Homo sapiens: one gene and its partners. Each later gene encodes a partner of the first gene's protein in a complex. Each region holds a gene or a part of one and is shown on either strand. Other genes may lie near its edges.

The links.
Region 2: APOOL (region 1) and CHCHD3 share a complex: the UniProt entries of both Homo sapiens proteins name them as parts of the mitochondrial contact site and cristae organizing system (MICOS) complex.
Region 3: APOOL (region 1) and CHCHD6 share a complex: the UniProt entries of both Homo sapiens proteins name them as parts of the mitochondrial contact site and cristae organizing system (MICOS) complex.

Annotation. Positions count from the first base shown.
Region 1 is NC_000023.11:84,998,938-85,006,995, forward strand, and holds the start of APOOL (MICOS complex subunit MIC27 precursor), read left to right. Parts: upstream 1-4,939; 5' UTR 4,940-4,975; coding exon 4,976-4,990; intron 4,991-8,058. UniProt on the Homo sapiens protein: Component of the MICOS complex, a large protein complex of the mitochondrial inner membrane that plays crucial roles in the maintenance of crista junctions, inner membrane architecture, and formation of contact sites to the outer membrane.
Region 2 is NC_000007.14:132,784,666-132,792,121, reverse strand, and holds the end of CHCHD3 (MICOS complex subunit MIC19), read left to right. Parts: intron 1-6,461; coding exon 6,462-6,485; 3' UTR 6,486-7,252; downstream 7,253-7,456. UniProt on the Homo sapiens protein: Component of the MICOS complex, a large protein complex of the mitochondrial inner membrane that plays crucial roles in the maintenance of crista junctions, inner membrane architecture, and formation of contact sites to the outer membrane.
Region 3 is NC_000003.12:126,951,824-126,959,279, forward strand, and holds part of CHCHD6 (MICOS complex subunit MIC25), read left to right. Parts: intron 1-5,592; coding exon 5,593-5,728; intron 5,729-7,456. UniProt on the Homo sapiens protein: Component of the MICOS complex, a large protein complex of the mitochondrial inner membrane that plays crucial roles in the maintenance of crista junctions, inner membrane architecture, and formation of contact sites to the outer membrane.

The DNA of each region.
Region 1 (8,058 bases):
AGGATTTCATGTGTCCACAAGAATACTTTGTTGCCCAGGATCACCAAATACCATTAAATAAGAGCCCTTACATGATCCTAGGGTGTCAGAGCTAGAAATAACATACCATTGTTAAATTATGTAGTCCGTATAAGTGGACTTGATTTGTTTCTCAATATGTGGCCCAAGGAATATCCATATTAGAAACACCTGGGGTACTCTTCAGACATGCCCCTACATCAGAACAAATAAATACCAATATCCAAGGGTGGGATCCAGGAATTCTCATTTTATCAAATTATGCAGGTGATTCCCAAATACACTAACTTTTGGAACATCTGGTCTGGCTCAGCTCCTTCAAGATTCTGCCTTTAGAGGCCAAGATTTTATTTTGATGCTAATACTTTCCATTATACAAAGCTGCCTTTTGTGCCCAAAGCAATTAGTGGCAATTGATAAACTTACAATAATAAATCAAGGAATATTTAAGAATAAATAACCTAAAAGAAAATCCAAATTCTTTATATAGATCTGGTTCCTGCCAGACTCTTCTATCACTTTCTGCCTTACTTATGGTGCTCCAGTAAGTTTATTCTCACCTCACGGTCTTTGCATTAGTTGTTCCTTCTGCTTGGAGTGCTCAAACATTAACATGAGTAGACTCACGTTTTACTCAAGACTGCTGAAACATCTGCTCCTTCAAGAGGTATTCCCAATCTAAAGTAACTTTCACCCCAAACCAGAGACTAAATACTATAGTCACTCTCTGTAGTATTTATCAGCATTTAAAATAATCTTAATTTATTTACTGTCTTAGTCAAAATATACTTAAGCTCCCTGGGACCAGGGATTGTGTCTGTGTTGTTCATTGCCTCAAGCCCAGTATATATTTTTTCTGACTTTTTAAATATTTCTGCCACTAATTGGGACATCACATAGACATATTCTGAGAATTACACTTCTTTTTATTCTCATACACAATAGTTCCATGTCCTATAGATCATTCTTACGTAAAGTCAAAGCATTTAGTTGACAAAAACATGCCAGTCATAAGCTTCCATATTTGTGGATAAGGTCATAAAAGCATTGAATGCATTCCATTGATTTATTCTTGATTGTTCATATAGGAAAAGATGAGTGTAAGGAAATTATGAATTTTTTTCTATTTTTGGATTGAAAAAGTTAATATTGTTTTTATTTATTTACTTTTTTAAAAACTTTTATTTTAGGTTCTTGGGTACATGTGCAGGTTTGTTATATAGGTAAAATTGTGTTATAGGGGTTTGTTGTACAGATTATTTCATCACCCAGGTACTAAGCCTAGCACCAAATAGTTATTTTTTCTGACCCTCTCCCTCCTCCCACCCTCTACCCTCAAGTGGGCCCCAATGTCTGTTGTTCCCCTCTTTATGTTCACATGCTCTCATCATTTGGCTCCCGCTTATAAGTGAGAGCATGTGATATTTGGTTTTCTGTTCCTGCATTAGTTTAAAATAAAGGCCTCCAGCTCCATCTATGTTGCTTCAAAGGACATGATATCATTCTTTTTTTGGCTGTGTAGTATTTCATGGCATATATGTACCACATTTTCTTTACCCAGTCTATAGTGATTGGGCATTTACGTTGATTCCATGTCTGTTATTGGGAATAGTGCTGCAATAAACATATGTGTGTATGTGTCTTCATGATAGAACCATTTACATTCTTTTGTGTATTTACTCGGTAATGGGATTGCTCAGTTGAATGGTATTTCTGTTTCTAGCTCTTTGAGGAATTGCCACACTGCTTTCTATAATCGTTGAACTAATTTACACTCCCACCAACAGTGTATTAGTGTTCCCTTTTCTCTGCAACCTCACCAGCATCTGTTATTTTTTTGACTTTTTAATAATAGCCATTCTGACTGGTGTGAGATGGTATCTCATTGTGATTTTGATTTACATTTCTCTAATGATCACTGATATTTAACTTTTTTTCATATGCTTGTTGGCCGCATGTATATCTCCTTTTGAGAAGTGTCTGTTCATGTCCTTTGCCCACTTTTTAATGGGGTTGTTTGATTTTCTTGTAAATTTGTTTAAATTCCTTACAGAAGCTGGATATTATTTTCTCCCATTCTGTAGGCTATCTGTTTATTGATGGTTTCTTTTGCTGTGCAGAAGCTCTTTAGTTTAATTAGATCCCATTTGTCAGTTTTTGCTTTTGTTGCAATGATTTTGGTGTCTTTGTCATGAAATCTTTGCTAGTTCCTGTGTCCAGAATGGCATTGCCTAGGTTGTCTTTCAGGGTTTTTATAGTTTTGAGTTTTACATTTAAGTCTTTAATCTATCTTGAGTTAATTTTTTATTATAGTATAAGGAAGGGGTCCAGTTTCAGTCTTCTGCCTATGGCTCACCAGTTTTCCCAGCACCATTTATTGAATAGGGAGTCCATTATTGGGTATATACCCAAAGGAATATAAGTCATTCTACTATAAAGACACATGCATGGGTCTGCTCATTACAGCACTATTCTCACTAGCAAAGACATTGACTCAACCTAAATGCCCATCAACAGTAGACTGGATAAAGAAAATGTGATACATATATACCATGGAATACTATGCAGCCATCAAAAACATAAAAAAGAATAAGATCATATCCTTGGCAGCACCATGGGTGGAGCTGGAAGCCATTATCCTCAGTGAACTAGTGCAGGAACAGAAAACCAAATACTGCAGGTTCTGACTTATAAGTGGGAACTAAATGGTGAGTATGCATAGACATAAAGATGGAAACAATAGACACTGGGGCCTACTTGACGGTGGAAGGTGGAAGGAATGTGAGGATTGAAAAACTACCTATCAAGTGCTATGCTTATTACCTGGGTGAGGAAATAATCTGTATGTCAAACCCACTTGACATGCAATTTTCCTGTATAACAAACCGGCACATGTACCCAAACCCAAAATAAAAGTTAAAGTTGGAAAAGAAGCAACAACAACAACTACAACAACAAAACATGGGTGTTATTGAAATTCCTGAAATTTTTGGGAAATAAGATTGTTATAAATTTATTCTAAGCTTATTCACAATTTTAAGACTTTTCTTATTTGCCTGTTGATTATTGTGAAATAAACCTGACTGATATTAAAATCAATAAAAAGTGTGCATCAATCAGTTATGAACAAAGTTAGCTTGACAAATCTAGGTATACCATTTATTTAATATGCAGAAATGTTAAATTTGGATGAAATTATTGACAAATACACAGAGGTTAAGGCTCAAAAACAGAAACTGTAATATTATTATTCATTCCTGTGGCAGACCACTATGTAGATATAAGTATTTTTCCTTTGAAAAATACATTAATGCAATTAAAACACCTTGATCCATTTTTTTCCTTTTTTGGTTCTGTACTATTTATTTTGCATTTTATTTTTATATTGGCATATATATGTATGTATATGTTTATATTAAGTTCAATAAAAGAAAATAGTCACTCAATGTTTCTTTTGTAGCCAGTATTATTAGTTTCATTTCATCATTATTTCTTAAAATAATTTTGTCATTTACAGGACAGTTCTGTTAAAAAGGATCTGTTTTGGGTATGAAATGTGATAGGTATCAACTAATGCCTAGTATATAGTTTGCACATAATAAATATTTGTTGATTGAATGAATGAATACATGAATTAATATTGGGACTGTTAATGGGCATATTATGAGCATCTTCTTTCCTCAGAATCCTTCAGGGAGGCCTACAGCAGACCTTGCTCCTGTTGTGAATATTGCAATATACCCTTAGTATATTCTCCTGATAGCACCAAAATCATCCTTTAAAAATGTAAATTAGATCACATCACACCTTTGCTCAAAATCCTCCAATGATTTCCCATCTTATTCAGCATAAAATCCAAATTTATTTTGGCGGCACGAAAGCCCCTACACTGTGTTACTTCGCTACCTCTGAAATTATTGCTCCAGCCTCACTGGACTTTTTCATTGCTGTTCCTTCCGTATGCAACCCTCTTCTCTAAATTCCTCCAGGACTTTTATCAAATGAGCTTATCAGAGTCTTTCTCTCATTGATATAAACCAGTAAACTCCCACCTCATTCCCATACTGTTTTATTTTCCTTCATAGCATTTGTCTCTTTTTTAAAATTTATTATTTATTTTTATTTATTTATTTATTTTTTTGAGACGGAGTCTCGCTCTGTCGCCCAGGCTGAAGTGCAGTGGCGCGATCTCCGCTTACTGCAAGCTCCGCCTCCCGGGTTCACGCCAGTCTCCTGCCTCAGCCTCCCGAGTAGCTGGGACTGCAGGCGCCCGCTACTACGCCCGGCTAATTTTTTTTGTACTTTTAGTAGAGACGGAGTTTCACCGTGTTAGCCAGGATGGTCTCGATCTCCTGACCTCGTGATCCGCCCGTCTCGGCCTCCCAAAGTGCCAGGATTACAGGCGTGAGCCACCGCGCCGGCCTCATTTGTCTCTTTTACTCCTGTAATCATAAGCTCTGTGAGGAAGCCACTATGTTTTGTCTATGCCCCGAACAACTGCCCGGCACAGAGTATGCTCTCCGTGACTTAGTTTTAGAATGAATGAACTTACCCATGTTTCGCAGAGGTAATAAGTTGTTTTTCTTACTATATAATTAATTATTAAAGCAGCTACATTTGGGTATTAAGTCCTTATCTGGACATATCACATATGCCCGAAACAAAATAATTAAAAGTTCTGCACCCAGGAAAATAACTCCCAACTGGACTATTGATAATGTTCTGGAAGGCTTTATCTGGGACCGGGAGGGTCAACCACAGGGGTGAACAGTTTCTCCAGAAGACAGCTGACCGAAACCGCAGCAGTTGCCAAGGCGGCTGGAGGAGGGCGGAGAAAAGGCGGTAACTGGCAGGCAAGGGGCGTAACGGGGTGGGGCTGTCCTAAGGGAAGCCTAGTCGAACTGATTTGTCCCTCTCTGCTCTCCGTCTGAAAACCTTGGCCGAAAGGGTTGTAGACATGGCGGCCATCAGGGTAAGCGAAAACCAACTTGCTTAATTTCTGTGGGTGCCGATAGCATCCCGGTAACTGTAAAAGGGATCCTACTAACTTCTGAAGGAGCCCTGAAACAAGGGGCAGGGTGGAGGTGGGTTTTGAGATAATTGCAATCTTTATCGTTTGAAGCCTCAAGACACCTGCCTTTCCCCATTAGGGTTTTATCAGCCTGGGACGCTGCTCCCTCAATCCCCTGTGGTTGTCGATTTACACAGTGGCACAGTACAAAACTGGGAAACGGCTGGGTGAAAATGGCTGGCCAGGCGACGAGCCGCAGTAGACGTTTCGGTCTTCAGCTGCAATAAAGAGAAAAATATATATATAAACTTGGCATTTGTCTCGGCGCACAGGGCAAGGCCACATGACCCTATGGAAGGACTTTGTTGAAACATTTGGGGTGAAACTGACCAGGATAGAGAGGTCCCATAGTCTTTCAGCAGTGCGCTGGTTTACACATAGTGTTGTTGCTTTCTGTGCTCGAATAACCTGTTCCTTTCGAGTTTTACGCTTGGGAAAGGTGCCTTTACTTGGGAGTCCGTGTACAGTGAGTGACTCAGCTGGCAGCTTGCTGCAGTTCCCTAAGTAGTGTTTAATAATGGTAGTCTACAGATATTTACGTAGCGGGTTTTAATTGTAAAATATTCTGTTAGGCTTGCAGGAGATACAGTATGAATAATTCAGTTCCGCTGAAGTTTTAAGTCGGCAGCGTCTACAGTTCTGGTTCTCATACTTCATCTGAGTTATTTGAACAACCTCCTACCTGAACTTGCCACCTCAAGCCTGGCTCTCATGTAATCTGTTTTCCTCTGTGTTGCCAGAGTACATCTACCAAAATGCAAATTTGATTTTTGCCTCCCCCCGCATTTAAAAAATTTTATGGGCATGTCATCATCTCCCCTCTGGGGTCAGGCCATACTCTTATGTCTAGAACATCTGATTTTACCTAGACTTTCCAGCCTCATCTCTTGTCACTCAGGAACCCTCCTCCTGTCGATACTGAGCTGCTTGCTTGACCCCGCCATGCTTTTTTACGTGCTCTTTCTCTGGGCCTAAAGTGCCTTTTCCCATGCTTATCTAGTTGTATTTATAGTTCATTCATTCATTCAGCAGCTATTTGTGTACAGCCTCCCCATATGCAAAACACAAAAATGCCTTGTTTAATAGTGTCCTTGATCTCCCCAGTCTATTTTATTTTATTTTATTTTTTATTTTTGAGACGGAGTCTCTCTCTGTCTCCCAGGCTTGAGTGCAGTGGCGCGATCTCAGCTCACTGCAACCTCCACCTCCCGGGTTCAGGCGATTCTCCTGCCTCAGTCTCCTGAGTAGCTGGGACTACAGGCGCATGCCAACCATGCCCGGCTAAATTTTTTTATTTTTATTTTTTAGTAGAGACGGGGTTTCACCATGTTGGTCACGCTGGTCTCGAACTCCTGACCTCGTGATTCACCCCCCCCCCCCCCCGGGCCTCCCAAAGTACTGGGATTACAGGCGTGAGCCACCACGCCCGGTCCTCGCCAGTCTATTTTAATAACTCTTGTTTGTGCTCCCAGAGGACTCTGGGCACACTCTTAACCAAGCATTTATTCCACTGCACATATAGACTACTTACTTGTCTGTTCTAGCTACCTAAACTATAAGCTCCTTGAAGACAGTAATTATATTAACCTTTGTATCCGTAGTACCTAGCACAGGTCTGATGTATATTAGGTAGTCAACATGTTCTACATGAATAAAGTGCCAGGCAATGAGGACAGAAGAGATTAAGTGGTGGAGATATAACACATATAACACAAATGACTGTGATTCAGAGTAAGGGGAGTTTCTTACCTGAAGAGAAGTACAAAGTGCTCTGACGCTCAAAAGGAGAGAGCTCACACTTGGTTTGAAGAGAGTAAAAAGAGGCTTCATGGAGAAGGTGCAGAGACAGAAGGAATGGTCAGTGGCAAAAAGCAAACCAGAATAGTGTGTTTTCATTGAGAAGAAGAGAGTTGAACAGTCCTTTGATTTCACCATTAATAAGTTGCTGCTGTTATCATTTATTAAGTGCTTACTCCAGGCCAGGCACTATGCTAAAACACGTTACATGTGTTAATTCACTAATTCTCAAGACAACTTTATGTGGTGGGTATTATTACCATTTTACACATGAAAATTAAGGTTTAGAGAAGTCAGATTATTCAAAACCATGCTAATAAGAGCTGAAGTGAGCTAAAGAGATAAATAGAGTGGTAGAGGAACAACCAAGATTGTATGGGGTTAAGAAAAGAATAAGGGATGGAGAACTGGCATTCATTTAGCACCCACTTTGGCCAGATGATTTACATATATTATTTTAGTTTAATCCTCTTGATGACCCTAAGAAATGGGTAATATATCCATTTTACAGATGGAAAAACGGAGGCTTAGAAAAACTGCTTGCTCCAGGTCATACAACCACTAAGTGGAAGAACTAGGTTCAAACAGTATATTTATCTCCAAAGTCTTTCCACTCCTCCTTGCTTCCTCTGGAAAGGAGTTATACATTACTCTTTAGAGAAGTTTGGTGGTGAAAAGAAGGAACAAAATCTTGGAATGAGGGTAGCAAATTCCAGAAAAGGTGTCTTTTAATTAAAAAAAAAAAAAACTAAAAACAAAACAGGAGACAGAAGACTTGAGCTACTTTGGAGACAAGGGAAAATGTACCAGGAGGTATCTAGAGGGAAAGATAATAGTATTTACAGCTATTGTGTTATTGAATATTGACTACGTGCTAGGAATTTTGCTAAGCACTTTATGTGGATTCTCTCATTTATGTTTCACATTGGCCCTATGAGTAGGAATTTATATTAATCACTTTTTACAGGTAGGGAAACAGAAGCTTAAAAAGGTCAAGTAACTCCAAGGTCACACAGGAGTAAAGTGGTAGAGCTGGATCTGAAATCACATGGTATGAGTCCTGAACCTGGACTCTTAACCATACTTTGTAAGAAAGTGGTAAAATCAAGAGAACAAGTGGAGGGATTAACCTTGCAAAGAGGAGACACACTTTGCTTCAAAGGCCAGAGTTG
Region 2 (7,456 bases), on another chromosome or scaffold:
CAACCCCAGGAGATGCCCAAGGGACAGAGGTCAGTGTGGGACCTGCAGTTAGATGATGAGTCTGTCAGGGGTCCCCCAAACCATAGCAGAAGTTTCAGTCAGTAAGCAGGCAGTGGGACAGTAGCCACGCAAACAGTTAGTTCAGCTCACAATAAGGACGTCTTGTAAATGAGACAGCCCCACCTCAGACCTACATGCTTCCTGCTGATCTCTTTGGAGAGATCAGAAAGGAACCTGGCCACAGTGAGGAACTTGGGGTCAGGACCCAGTAAATGAGGCTAGATCCTAATGTGACAGCTCTCCAACTTAAGGCTAGTGCACCCCGTTGTCTCGTTTCTAAAATATCATTGACATCTCCAGTATTTGGTTGGCTTCCTAAGTCAAAGCCTCAAGATCAGTGCATATGGAGGAATTTGCCCTGGCACAATTTCTGTCCGCCTTCTGAAGGACAATTTCATCTCCCCGGTGAACTGTATTTATATTAGACCAGGATTCTGCTCCTAAGTCTGTGACATATTTTGAGTATGAAGGGGTCCTGAAAACATAGTAGTAGCTTTTGCTTAAAAATCAAGGTTCTTGAAAGAAAAACCTATTGCCAGAGCAAGCTGTATGTTATCATTGTTTTCAGATGAACTCTACATTAGATGCAAATGATTTAATAGACTTATAGGCTGTTGGAGCTAAAAGGACCCTAGAGATCATATAACCCAACCTCATTTTTTTCATGTGCAAAATTAGCTTCCAGAGAATTTAAATGATCTGTAGAAGGGCAGAACCCAGACCAAACAGCCCACTCTTAAATTCAAAACCAGGGTATTTTTCCTGTCGTGTCAGATCTCAGATGTGGGTGAGCATCAGAATCCCCTGAGGGGTTTGCTTAAAATGTACCCACCCAATCCCCATCCCTGGAGATTCTGATTCAGAAGGTCTGGGGTGAGGCCTGGGCATCTGAACTTTGACCAAATTTCCCAGGAGACTCTGTACCCAAAGTTTGAAAACCATTGCTCTTAGAGCCCATTGGCCTGAATTGCATTAAAGGTCTTTGACCTTTCAGAGGTCCTGCCAAGTCCTTGTTTTCCATCTTTTGGGAGATGGGGAGCTATCACTCCCTATAGGTCAAAGCTACCTGGCAGAGGTCTCATCAGACCAACCCTAGGAATGAATCTTTAGCCTTAAGAACAAATTGGAAGATGATGTGGGAATCAGATGGAAGCCTTGAAAAGAGATCCCCTTCCCCTCTTCTCTTGCTCCCATTGAAACAGTAGGTGACCCCAGTCCCCTGGCTAGCTCACAGCTGTGACCAGACCCTCCCTTGGTTCTACTGCTCCCAGTCACCCTGCTTCTCTCCCCGACCCACATCAGGGTCCCCCCGATGTACACGGTGGCCACTTTCAGAGAGCACGAAGATAATCAAGAAGGTTAACTTTCTGGGAAGCCCCCCAGGAGCATGTTTTTATTGTGTTCGAAAGCTGCTTTATCATTATCGCTTGATGACATTTATTAATTGCCCAGCTGGGATGCTGGTCACAGGGTGACTGACACGTGGGTATTTCATAATAGATTTCCCATTTTTTTGGTAGGGCAGCCCTTTGAATTTAGAGTCAGATCAAAGCAAACAAAATTCCAAACTTTAAATTTCCTATCCCAACCTCTTCCATCATAGGAATCCTTTTCTAAACCACTTTCTGAGAGTAATCGTTGCTTCGTGACATTTTCTCTTTTTTTAAATCTGAGTTTAATAGAAGAAATACTACCATGGTAATAGATTTTCATTTTTCTTAATAGGTATTTCTTTTCCCATGGTCATCCTTCAATTAGAACTGCAGTATGTTAGTGTTTTGTCTGTTATTGCAGCCAGCTGTATAAACAGTTAATTACTTGTAACTTAATTTGAATATTATACAGAGCATTTGTCATAGAAGATATAAAACAAGATCCAGGCAGAAAAAAGTTAACTTCTATTTCCTCCAAAGCAGGAGGAACAAAGAACAAACAGCTCTTGCTGCAGGGGAATAGACACATATTGAAAACAAAATAAGTGATCTAATCAGATTTCCAGGTAGTGAAGAACAGTACTTGGTGCACAGGCAAAACTCGCTTTGTGCTTCCCATAAATTCAATTTATAGATGACTTTTCCTTCCTGTCTTATGCACAGTCTTCTCATTCTGGCTTTTTCCTCATCGAAGCTCCAGTGTCTCCCACTCCCCACTTTTCCTGACCCTCCTTAGTAAAACTCGTGTCTTAAGACCAGGTCTGTGCCAGGACACATCTCCAGTTTCATTTTTCCTTGGTTAGGTAGACCTTCCTGCTTCTCTACCCAGCTTTATGAGGCCTGAAGTCTTGGTGAGGCGCTGGGTAAGTTCATCCAGAGACAAGCACCCTGAGTGGTATCTTAAAAAACAAACCGCTTTTCTTCTCTTCATGATGATTGGTTAGCAACCCAGGGTTGCCATCATTTCTCTTAAATTATCAACACAACCAGTAGCTGGCATGCTGCTATGATAGTCAACCCCTCCAAGAAAGCTGTGATTCAAAAATCAGTTGATGAGATTACTGCTTAACAGAAATATTTGAGGCAAGCGGTTAGGATGGTTAGTAAGGTTTTAATAAGCGGAAATGACACGCAATCTCAGGTCTCCAGGGGCGCTGTTCTTATTTGTGAGCTGCCGGTTGTTCTTCAGTGGCTGGAATGAGAAAAAGACTTGGGAAAAGAGCAGTGTTCATGCCTGAACCACTCTCTTCTTTTGGTGATTTACCCAGCTGTTTATAAAAGGAGTTTCTGCAGGCCCAGATACGTGAATGATGAGCAAAAGCAAGGAATTTCTTTCTCCACATTAAGATTAAGTGTTAGCAGTTCCTTAAATGAAGGAAGCAATTTTTTATAACTTGCAAAGCTTCTCCCTCATTCTTTAGGGAATTTCCTATGTTAATTTATGCAGTGTTAAATTTATGCAGCGTTGAAATTCAGCCCAACAGCAGTACTTACGGAACCAATACAGAGACAGTAGAACCTATAAGGTGAAAGCTGAATAACACAGACCCCACCAGACTACGGATCCCTCCAGCCAAAAGCCCTGAGTTCTGAGTTGGAGCAGGTTTTGTCGCATAGCTGGAATATAATAATAACCCAAAATGTTTGACAGATGAATTCATCTTTTTTAAAAATCCAGCCTGCCATTGTGTTTGTTAATTTCCCTGATAGAATTGAGATGGTTTTGTACCACCCCTGCCACCCTTTGGTAGCAAGTGAGTGCAGTTTGACAAAATGTTTATAGATCAGCCCTGGTGCTTTTCTGTGGTGGTCCCACATGTCTTCAAGGAGTCACCACAAATCAGCTGAACCACTGTGCTATCTTGGAGGATTAGAATTTTAATACATGTAACGGTATTTTGTGAATGTGGCTAAAGGGGTTATTAAAATGTTACTTCTTTTAGTGTCTTTATGTGAGACTGGCCTGCTCATCCTCAGACCAGCCAGGCCCCATCTTGTCTCTTTCTGAAAGAGAGCCTAACATTCTTAGCATGATATGATTTGGCTGAAAAATTACCCATCTATATTTGGTTGAGGTTGCAGAGAGAATAGTAAAAACAATCTCTAGACTCGTGAAAACACTCTTTAACTGTTGCTTTCCTTAAGTTGTGGCAGCTGCAGGTTATTTTGCAATATTTGAAAGGAGGTACATTGTCATGTGGTTATCCTTGTAACCCTAAGCCCAAAATTGTAGAGAGGGGTACAGCTATGTAATCTTGACCAGGCAGATGACAACTCAAAGCTCCCATCAGTGTGTTGAAGAAAGCAGTGAATCTATAACCCCCCCAAATGCAAATGGCTAAGTGGCATCATTTATAAAGAGATCACTTTCTCTAGTAACTGCATTCCCTTAGATAGGCTCAGTATAGATCTGCTTGATACTGGCTTCCATTTTGTATTTAATAAAGCATGATGTAGTGAGGTTGTCTATATATCTGGAATTTATAGAACTTATCATCTATGTGATTGGAGAGGCTCACACAGATCAATTCATAAGCAGGTGAGCATAGCTGAGATGCTGTGACGCTGTGACACTGCCAGGTGGTGTCTCTTACATGGTGGGTGCTCAGCGTGTTATTTTCCCAGCGAACATGGGGCTGGTGCCTCACATTCCAGTATGAGTTCTTACAGGACAACTCTCTGCTGAGCAATCTTCCACTGCACCTACTTTGTTTTTCCTGTTTTCCCTAAATGCATCTAGCTTTTCTAATTTACCTCCTGTATGACAGAATCATTGTTTTTCTCACCACTGTGTGTGTTATGTCTAAGTTTGTCTGCCTTTATATCTGTTCTTTTGTGCCCTATGACATAGACTTCTTAGAAACCTATAATGATGAACACTTTAGGATAATCTATCCACCCTTTGCTCCTATGACCCAATACACCATCTTGTTTGACTTCTACTCTTTCTGTTCTGTCCCCTTAATTTCAATCATTTTTAAATTTTTGACCCTAAATTGTTGTGTCTAGAGACCTTTGACCTCAGAGGGCCTACAGCGTCCTTCTAGACATTTCCATTTTGGATGTCTCACCCAAAATTGCCTCACAAACCCAAAATTTAAGTCATCCTCCTCCTTCCCAGGCTCCCACTGACTTCCCTGTTTCTCTTGGTGGCCCCATCACTGTCTTTGTCACCAAGGATCCTCCCATACCTTGGGTGTCACCATCTCCCTTTTTCTTCCCATGTAGCTCTAGTTCTTGTTTCCACCTTTGTCTGGTTTCTAATCTGCCTCCTCCTTGGGCTTCCTGCCTGCAGACTCCCCTCTGTTGGATCCATCATGCTGAGGATGTCAGGTTAACATTCCTAAATGCCATTCTCCTATGTAAAAGCATTCCTCCATGTTTTCTGTGGCTAGCAGGACATGTCTCAGCCTGGCGTCCGTCCTGGGCCCTCTTTCCACCCTTTCTCTTGGTCAGTCCTGAGCATGTACCCTTTCTTCCAGCTAGGCCTCTCCCCTCAGGATTCTGTGTGTGCTAGGCTTCTTCCCCTGCTGAATCCTGGCCACCGCTTTCTCCCCTCACTCCTCCCAGTCCCACCCCAGTCCTCCACCTGGATTCTCTCCATGGTGGAAGGTCCTTGGAGAAGCCTTCCCTGCTCGCTCCAGCTACAGGGTTGCCCTCTGCACCAGGCAGAACCATTCCTCTTGTGAACTGTGACCATCTCTGGAAGGGGACACAGAAACTGGGAAACGGAAGGAAAAAATTACTTTCTACCAGATACTATTTGGTTCCTGTTAAATGTTATGCTGTTTACACAATAAATTTTAGCATGTATTTAGCAAATAAATAAAAATTAGCAAATTATTACCTTTTATTATTCCTGAATTTTCCACAGGTGTATGTATTAGTTTCCCCAATGCACTAAACTGAGTGCAGTGGTACCTGGTAGGAGCTCAATGAAGAGATGGCTGGAAGGGTGCGGGTTGGCGGGAGGCAGGTGGGAATGGATAAACTAGAGGCAACCTCGGCCTCACCTTGCCTCTCTGAGTGGTTGCAAAACTAGAGGGGAAAGTATCACTTTTTTCTTCTTAAAGACCTCTAAAAATGAAGGCAGTATACCCCCATTTCAGCTGGTTATAGAGTTCTCATCTGATAGTTAAGAATTCTTCCTATCTACATCCTCATCTCCCAAATAAATAACTAAATAGAATGTAGGGACCATTTCTGCAATCTGGGAATAGGTACCAATCTGTGTAGCTCTGTCCAGCCTCATGAGCACATGAACATCTGCGTTCTCCCCCTCTGGGAAGGAATCTTGTGTTTCTCTAATGAAGAGATTCCCTCTCAGAGCCTTTGGAGTTGGGGTTTGATCCCTGCACTGCCTTGGCCATAGCTTTCCCCCGGTCACTGCATCCATCAGCCATGCTCCCAACATTTCCAAATGCCCCTACCAGGAGCACTTTTGCTTTCTATTTGAGACAGCAAAGACTGTTGCCCAAGCTGGAGTACAGTGGCATGATCATGGCTCACTGCACCCTCTGCCTCCCAGGCTCAAGGGATCCTCCCACCTCAGCGTCTCGAGTAACTGAGACTACAGGCACACACCACCATGCCCAGCTAATGTTTTTGTTTTTGGTAGAGATTGGGTTTCATTGTGTTGCCCAGGCTGATTTCAAGCTTCTGGGCTCAAGTGATCTGCCCACTTTGGCCTCCCAAAGTGCTAGGATTACAGGCGTGAGCTACTGCGCCCGGCCTTGTTGGGGTTTTCAACCCATGTGGTGGTGAGAGGGGTCATTTAAAGATCATATTGATAAAGCAATGGTGTTGATTAAAGGAGCAATATTTTGAGAACAGGAAGCATATGCCTTGTTTTCTGTGTTTTTAAAATTAGATATTTGAAAAGCAACACAAATCATACTAAATAGTTAGTGCCATTTATTTTTTGTCCTCTCCCGGTGGTAAAACTTACTCTTTCTGTTTTTCTTGCAGAGCATGCTTGAGAAGGGAGGATAAAAACTTTCAGAATGAGCAAAACACCATCAACGTTAATTCCAGAGATGGAACATTTTTTTTCCTAGTGAGAAAACAACCCATTTGAAGAGAAGACCACTAATGAGAAGACCACTAAAGAGAGACATCAAGAATGGATTCAGCAGAATCATTTCACGTTTTGAACAGCAGCAGTTTGAAGGGCCAAAGCCTTGATCAGGGATCAGTCATTAAAGGACACTCTTGAGTATTAGTAAACCCTCTTATGATGATTAAAAGAGAAGGGCAGCCCTCTCCACCTTTTGGTACTTTCTATTCAACTTGCACTGACCATAAAATGTTTCTCTTCTGAACAAGCCCCATCATTTGGTGAACCTCCACCCTAACAAAGTAGGATGGGGTTGGGGGCTAAATTAATTGGAGTGGGGCGAGGAGAGAGCCAGAAAACATAGATCCGAGGGCAGCAGTGCTGGGTGGAGAGAGCCAGAAAACAGATCTGGAGGCAGCAGTGCTGGATGGAATTGTCTAGGCTGTGGCATGTTGGTTTTGTCTTTCTTTTCTCCTTTGATTATGTAAGAGCTATTTCATTATAACTTATTATGGTGATTATACAGGCAAGAAGACAAAAAGGAGAGAAAATGTACCTCTTCTACTGGAATAATGTTTATGATTACAAGTGAGATAAGGTATTTTTATCAATATGAAGGCAACCTTGGCTGATAAAACCTCTATAGTGAATACTCACATCTTTACTTCACTCACTATCAATAATAAATATATTTTCTGACAAAGACTGGCATTGTAGCTCCTCACACATTCCTTTGGCTGGGTTAGATGTCTATGCTTACGGGAATTGAGCTGATTTATATTGTTAATAATTTGCATTTGTGCTGTACCTTTCCTCTCAAAGGCTCCAGAGCATTTCGTGGAGCCTCCGACAGGCAAGTGATGCTTATAACTTGCCTATCAGGTAGGTAGAATTCGGGAAGATCTTT
Region 3 (7,456 bases), on another chromosome or scaffold:
GATAGCCTGAGGTCCATGGGAGACCTAGCAGGCCGTCAGGTCTGGGTACAGTCTAACTAGGCCTGAGATCTGGCCTTGCTTTTCAAATGGTGAACTTGAGCAAGTTACTGTATCACTTGGAGACATTGTGGGTTTGTTTTTGTTTTGTTTTGTTTTAAGGAAAAACAGAGCTTCTACCTTATGTGGGCCTGCTTGGGATTAAATGAGGTAATGCTTCGCACATTGTGCAGTGAGTTGTGATTACCTAAGAATGAGTTTTTGAACTGCCTTGGTGTTTTAGAAATCTGTGGCCTGCATTATGTTCTGAAAGCATCACTGTTGCTGGAAGTAGAGAGGACCGTTGGGAGGCTATTTAATGACAGTGAAAACAAGGGCATGGGCTAGGGCTCTCCTGTAGGCTAGACTTGGGAGTGCTCTGTGGGCATGGGGGCTGGAGAAGTTGGGTGCTCTGGGTGTGCAGCTGGACCAGCTGGGTGTTGGTGCTGCCGACCCAACTGAAATTCAGGAGGAGGAGATGTTGGGATGAGGGCTAGCCACATCTGGTCCATGTGGGCCCATGGCCACCTGCTGGGCTGCATGGCAGGCAGGGGACAGCAGGTCTTGAGCTGGGCACCATGCTGGTGTGCTGAGGGGACAAGGGCAGGGGCCACAGGTGGAGCTCGCACACAGGCAGAGGCCCAGGGTCCAGCAGAAGAGAACCAGAGTAAGTGGCCAGAGAGGCAGTGAGGGCCAGGCAGGTGCCGTCAGCTGAGCAGTGAGGCTCGGCATGGGGCCCAGGGGAGTGGGGCAGGGGGAGCCCCAGGCAGCACCTCTCTAAGCAAGGAGAAGCTGCTGTGGCCTGGGACGGAGATGGAGGCAAAAGGGGGTTTCGATTTGAAAAGCTTTTCCATATTTTGAGAGATGAATGTGTTTTGGATGGAGTGCGGGGAATGGAGAAGGTCCAGGAGAGGTGGTCAGTGGGAGAGGCCCGCTCAGGCACAGGGGTTGGGAAGGAACCACATGGGGCCTCTGGACTCTGCTGTGTCTGTGGTCTCAGCCGACAGGGTGGGGGCTCTGGGAGTCAGGCAGACCTATGCGGCCTGCTTGCCAGGGACCAGGACCCATGTGCCTTGTCTGTGGCCATCACATTCTCAGGGCCATCAGGAGGCTGGATGTGGGGTCTTCTGTGGTCCTATTTACTGAATGCCAATGATTCCTTCAGGGCCACACTGCGTTACTGAGCATGTTCTGACCGGGCCGTCTTGGGCATCACCTGCCATTCTCCTGCCATCCTCTCAACAGCTCTGTGGGGTGGGGTCCTCCCCCATACCTGATGCACCGACCACACAGTGGAAAGTGACAAAGCCAGCGCCTTGCCCCAGGTTTGTCTGATCCCAGAACCTGTGTTCTTTCCACTAGACCAAGAGTCCCAGCCTCAGACATCTGCCAGCTCCTTGTTGAAGAGACACCATGATTATGCAGACTCGCTAATGCCCTAACATGCCTGAGGAGGAGGCACCACTGAGGCTGGGCGAGGTCTGAACTAGGTCTCGAATGATATCAGAGCTTACGCTGTAGAGGGAGGGACCCTTTAAGGTAAGGTCCCACCCTCCAAGCCCTACGTTGGCAGTTCCACCACCCCAGCATATCCTCAGCTCTTCTCTGCCAAGTGCCTCCAGTAACCCAGCCTTTCTGCAAGCTCACCCCACTCCAGACCCTGGCCCCACCTCGGTTTCTCACACTGATGGCTAGGTTGCTATGAGAGCTGCACTTCACAGCATGCAATTCTGTTCTTCTATGGGGCAAGCGGTGTTACTGTTCCCATTGTACCAATGAGGAACATAAGAGCCAGTGAGGTGAGCCAACTTCCTGGGCATTGTCTTTGATGCCTGTGCAAACAGACACCCCATACACCAATGCGAATGGTGTGAACCCCTTCGAAGCCACATGGACCATTAGATCTTCATTCTCCAAGGAAATGTCCTTACACAGGGGTACAGGACTTATTTCTATCCCTGGCAAGTTTGTGGCACACTTTGGATACCTTTATCTGTGCATGTGAAGAGTAGCTGTTTGCAAGACCATGTTTCTGAACATGGGAGCTGTTTTGTATGCATTGTAAACAGGGTCATGGTGTGCCAGGGCTGGGAGGGGTTCAGGGTGGATAGAGTGCACCTACTTTTGTGAATGGCTTCACCGAAGGCCTAGCCCTGCCTTGCTTCAGAGAAAGCTTTTCATTTCCAGAGCTATGCTCTCCCTGTCTTATCCCATTCAGAGCCTTTTTGTGGACAAATGGGTGAAATTTCTTCCAGTTGACATTTGCCTTCCATTCTGTCTCCTCATATTGTTCTGATAAGTCCCAGGAGAGAGAGGCTGTCATGGTCCCACGGGCGATACTGGCAAGGAGGGGATAGATTTCGCCATGGCCCAGTTTCTCCTAAACTGGGAGCCCACTGCGAGGTTTGCCCTCAAAATGCAGAGGCCCTTGTCCTGGGACCTGAAACTAAAGTAGGAGAAGCCAGTGAGGAGGGGACACAGCCAGGCTGACCATGGGGAGAGGGGCAAATGTGGCTGTGTCTTCCTGCACATCGCCATTCTGCAAAGTGTCGGCGTCTCTGTTGTGCCTCTGTAGAGGGCAGGGCTCAGCAGGTCAGCCCTCCAGCTCCATGAGGCTCAGCCACATGACTCAGGCTGGGGCCACTTAGCCTCCGCCTGTCCTGTCTATGGTACCTCTTTTCACATAGATCAGTAAGCCTCACAGAGTTACAGCTTAGGACAGCTCTGCCCTGACTAAGCCTGGGGCTTCCCCTGAGCCACTCACCATGACACACAGGTCCCCTCAGTGCCTGCTGGCCTCCACGGTGCAGCCAGGAACCAGGCTCACCAGGGCCCCATGAGGGCAGGGTGGGGTCCTGCTTCAGGGGAGTGCAGCAGAGGCTATGATGGAAGTCATGCTCTGGGGTCTCAGACTCTAGAGGGCCAGCACCGTCAGGAGGAACAGAAGACACAGCAAGAGGCTGGTATGAGGGGACAGCAGTATAGGTGACAAGAGAGAGCCCAGGGAGACTGGCAGTGCCACTGAAGGCACCCACTGCCCTGCAGATTTAACCCTGCCTGGGGAGGGGAGAGCACAGCCTTCTAAGGCTGGAGACTCAGGGAGCAGAACAGGAGGGGAGGCCTCTGCGATGGAGGCAGAGAGCCTGGCCTGTGACTTGAAAGTGCTCCTAAAACAGGTGTCAGAACACTCAGAACCAAAGCTGTATGTGCAGTCCCTGAGAACACCTGCCTGAGACGAAATGCCATGAGGCCAGCCGTCCCCCAAGGAAGAAGCAGCCTAAAAAGCCCACAACTAGACACACCCATGTCACAGTTCTTAAATACAGATGTGGAGCCGTGCTTAAGCACCTGGAGACAAATCAGGGGCTGCCCCAGACACCCCAGCTGTATTCTTGCCCCAGCCGCCTGTGCGGCAGCTGACGCAGGCCAGTGAAGCGGGTCTCCGGAGCTGGGCAGAGGACTGCACACCAGGGGCTCATCTGCCCTGCATATGTAAGAACGAGAAGTCAATGCAGATAAAACCCCCCCCACCCAGTCCTCTTCAGGAAATAAGAGGACCCTTTAAGACTTGGTGCATGCAATGCAGACTTGAGTCAGAATTGTGACCTCAATGGCTAGGATGGGGTGGAATTCAAGGACCCAGGCCAGGGCTGGGCCACCATGGCCTCCCCTGGCAGGAAGGGGAAGGCGTGCTCTCCCTTCACATCCTTTACCTTGGCGCTGGTGTGGCATGGCAGTCACAGGCGGCTGCACCCCACCCCACACTCATCCCTCCCCGTCTTTAATTTAGGGACTGTTCGTTTTGTTCATGCCCTGGGGATGGGTCTTGCTGGCCTTAGCTGAACATGGGACACTCACTGCTCATGTTAGCGATGGTGTTAGGCATGGGTATGTGACCTGGTCCTAGACAGTGAGTGGAGGAGAAACCTGGAGTGGGGTTTGAGGGGAGCATTGTCCCGCGTAGTCAGATGAGACAGCAGAGAGACCTGCTCCTCCCTGCTCCCTTTGACCTCTGCTGCAGAGAGGACTGCGCTGCATACAGTGGCCTGGGGATGACATGGACGAGAAGGGAAGACCAGACCCAGGTGGCATCACTGCTAAGTCAGCAGTGTACAGAAGTGTCCACCCGCAGACTTCCAGAGCAAGACAGCTAAATATGGGGTCCTGTTCCCAAGCTGTCGAGCATCCTGGTGCTGGTGGTTTCTAGCTGAGGAACTGTGTTCAAGTTATCGTTAGATGATAACGGCTCTGGAGACCCTGGTGGGAGAGCAACTGACCTACATATCTCTCTCTCCACGTACCTGGAGTGGAGCTGTGGCATGTGTGACAGTGATCCTTTCTATTGCTAAGAAACTTGAGGAATGGCTTTCTACATTTTTACAGCTCTTTTTGGTGCCCTCAGCCGTGAGTGGTGTTCAATTTGGAAAGGCTGTTAAGTGTTACAGTGGGTCCGTCTACAGCTGGGAAGGGTCCTGGCCTAAAACCCACTTAAGAAAACAAATGAGCAGCAACAGTACATCCAAAGCCATGTAAATAAATATGTCCCGCTCCTCCACTGTCCAGCTGCATGGCCTTAATTCTCTGAGCCTCAGTTTCCTCATTTGTGTGAACAGCATGATGAACGATAGTGTCTGCTACCAGAGCTGTAAGGAGCAGCACTGAGCACGCCCAGCAGCCGGAGGACAGCACCTGGCTGGCAGGGAGTGCACGAATGTGCTGTTGTGTGTGTCAGTGTGCGCACGAGAGAGAGAGAGAGAGAGAGAGAGAGAAATCTGGAAGGAGACCAACCAATCCAAAATTACGCTCAGGAGGCTGGGCCAGTGACTGACTTTAGTTTATCTATATTTGCTCTTTTTTTCCACAACTTTAGAAAGTGAACTTACTCACTTTTGTGGGTTCTAAAACTACTTTGAAAAAGAAAGAAAAAAATAGTAAATTACCCCCAAAATATTATAATGGTTACCTCTAAGAAGTAAAAAGAACATTTTTCATTTCTTTAGACATTTCTGTAGATTTCATTTTCCTTATTGCACGCATATTAGTTTTAAATCAGGAAAAAAAATAAGTCACATGGTTATAGTCACGGGTAAACCACAGGCACAGGAAAGCCCAGGAAAGCAGCTGACGGCTATCCTGGGCACAGTGGGGCGGGCTGTCTCAGGCATAAAGGGATGGCTATCCTGGGCACAGCGGGGCGGGTTGTCCTGGAGGCGGGCTGCACCATCCTCATGGGGGCCCTCCAGTGGGGCTTTCCTGTCTCCTGAGTGTACACAGGCCCCAGTGAAGGAGCCCGGTGTGGAGCCCCATACCACAGCATGTTTCAGTGTCTGCTATATTGTGAGCCTAAGCCACCCACCACAGGGCTTGACCCTGCGACCGTCCTCTCATTTCTAGAACGGGAAAGCACAGTGCTTCTCCTTGAGGGTTAAAAGGATGCTGCTGGGTGTCAGGGACTTAGCCTAGCGCCTGGGAGGTAGGTGGAGTGAATGTGAGTTGTTTCTCTCCCCTGCCTGCTGGCACCTGAGCCCCAGGCCTGCCTGCTCTTGTCTTCTGCAGGCCCCGCAGGGTGGAGCCCGTCTGCTCAGGGTTGCAGGCCCAGATTCTCCACTGCTACCGAGATCGCCCGCATGAGGTGCTGCTGTGCTCGGACCTGGTCAAGGCATACCAGCGCTGCGTGAGCGCCGCCCACAAGGTAAGGCCTTGCCTGCCTCCCAGGTTTCCAAGGGCCTTGGGAGGTAGGCGAGGTACCTCTATCTAGCATTGGAGATCTCTGCCTGCCTTTTCCTGTTAGAATCAGATGCTCCACTTGGAGGTCTCTGCATTTGCCAAGGGAGGGATTCTTCGCTTTCCTCAGTCACCTGCACACTCTCCTGGCTGCTTCCAGGAGCGCCTTGGACATCTGGCCCCAGGGAGATGATCCCTGTTGCGTTTGCCCTATTAGGCTGGGTGGGAGCAGGCTGGGTAAAGTCAGGCCCCACCTTCAAGGGCCGGGCCCCTTGTGGGTGCCGGGGACTTCTTAGCCCTCGGCACTTAGGGGTGGGAGGGTGGCAGAGGCCCGAGTGCAGAGTGGGGGTCCCAGCAAGGATAGGCCATCTGGAAGAGGAGTGGGAGCAGATGTGGCCATCAGAAGCTGCTCACAGCCACCCTGCCCTGAGCTGGTCTACAGGGGTGTGCTGGCTTGGCCTTCCTGGTGAGTGGTCCCAAGCCTCATGTGCTCTCTGGTCACCTCCCACTCCAGTGGGCCTCGGTTGTCCTGGATGCCTGTGATGCGCTCCCAGCCAGCTCCTACTGCCTTCCTCCCCCACCCCCAACTGCTGCTCTCTATCCTAGATAAGTCCTCCCCCTTCCCAGGTCCCGTAGCGTCCTCTGGTGCAGTCAGGCTGTTCCCAGCCATACCTCACCCTTGCCCCACCCCAACAGGACAGCTCCCACCTTGGGGAGCATCATTCACTCTCAGAACACCTAGTTTGGGCTCCCCAAGGAGTGCGGCCTGTTTGTGAAAATGTATGGGAGAAACAACAGGACGAGGTCTCCTTTCCCACGTAAAAGCCTCTTTGGCCTGAGTAGGAGACAGGCTGCTTTAGGTACTTGGGATGGAAAAGGCTGAGGCCAGATGCTCTGTGCTCTCCAGCCATGTCCAAGGGGAGATCTGTCCCACTGAACTGAGCGGGGTCCTGCAGCCCCAGGCCTGCAAGAGCTTCCTTGGGTCATGCCCTGCTCACACCCATCTGCCAAGGCTGATTGTTCCACTCTTTGCTGGTCACAGCCCCGTCCAGCACCGACTGTCCCTTCATGGCCAGAACACAGCCCAGAAGTAGCTCCACACAGGATGAGTGGTCGCAAGGCCTCTGTCAGCCTTCCAAGAGAGGGAAGCCCTGGGTAGGACAGGCGGCCTCCTCCTCCATCTCAGAGGATGGAAGGCTGCTCACTCTGCTTCCACGTGGGCAGGAGGCGCTGGGGCACTGGGTAGGCTGGGCCAGACCAGGGCCCTTCGCACCGACCAGACACTTAGCTCCCTACTCACCAGCAAAGTGAAGCCTCCAGATCCTCCACACACCCAATCAAGGGCAGCTCCGAGTCTCTGTTCATCACACACCTAACTCTTTACCGAGGGATCTGCTGCAGCCTCTTGGCTTCCTGGCAGGGCCTACGCCTCAGTGGCCAGCCCTAGACTCCATCCTCTCTCCATCCAGCCCCACCTCTGTGGTAGTTTTCAGCCCCTACCCACCACCCCTAAGAGTATTTCTTTAACAAACACACCTCACCAATATATCTTCCTCGCACCAAGGCAAAAATGTGATTACCAAGGAAGACAGATCACATTAAACCCCAGTGTATTCCCTGAGAGAGGCTCTGGGACACTGCCAGGTCTGGCTCCCTCCTTCCCGGCCCCTACCCCTGACATGACTAGCAAAGAAAC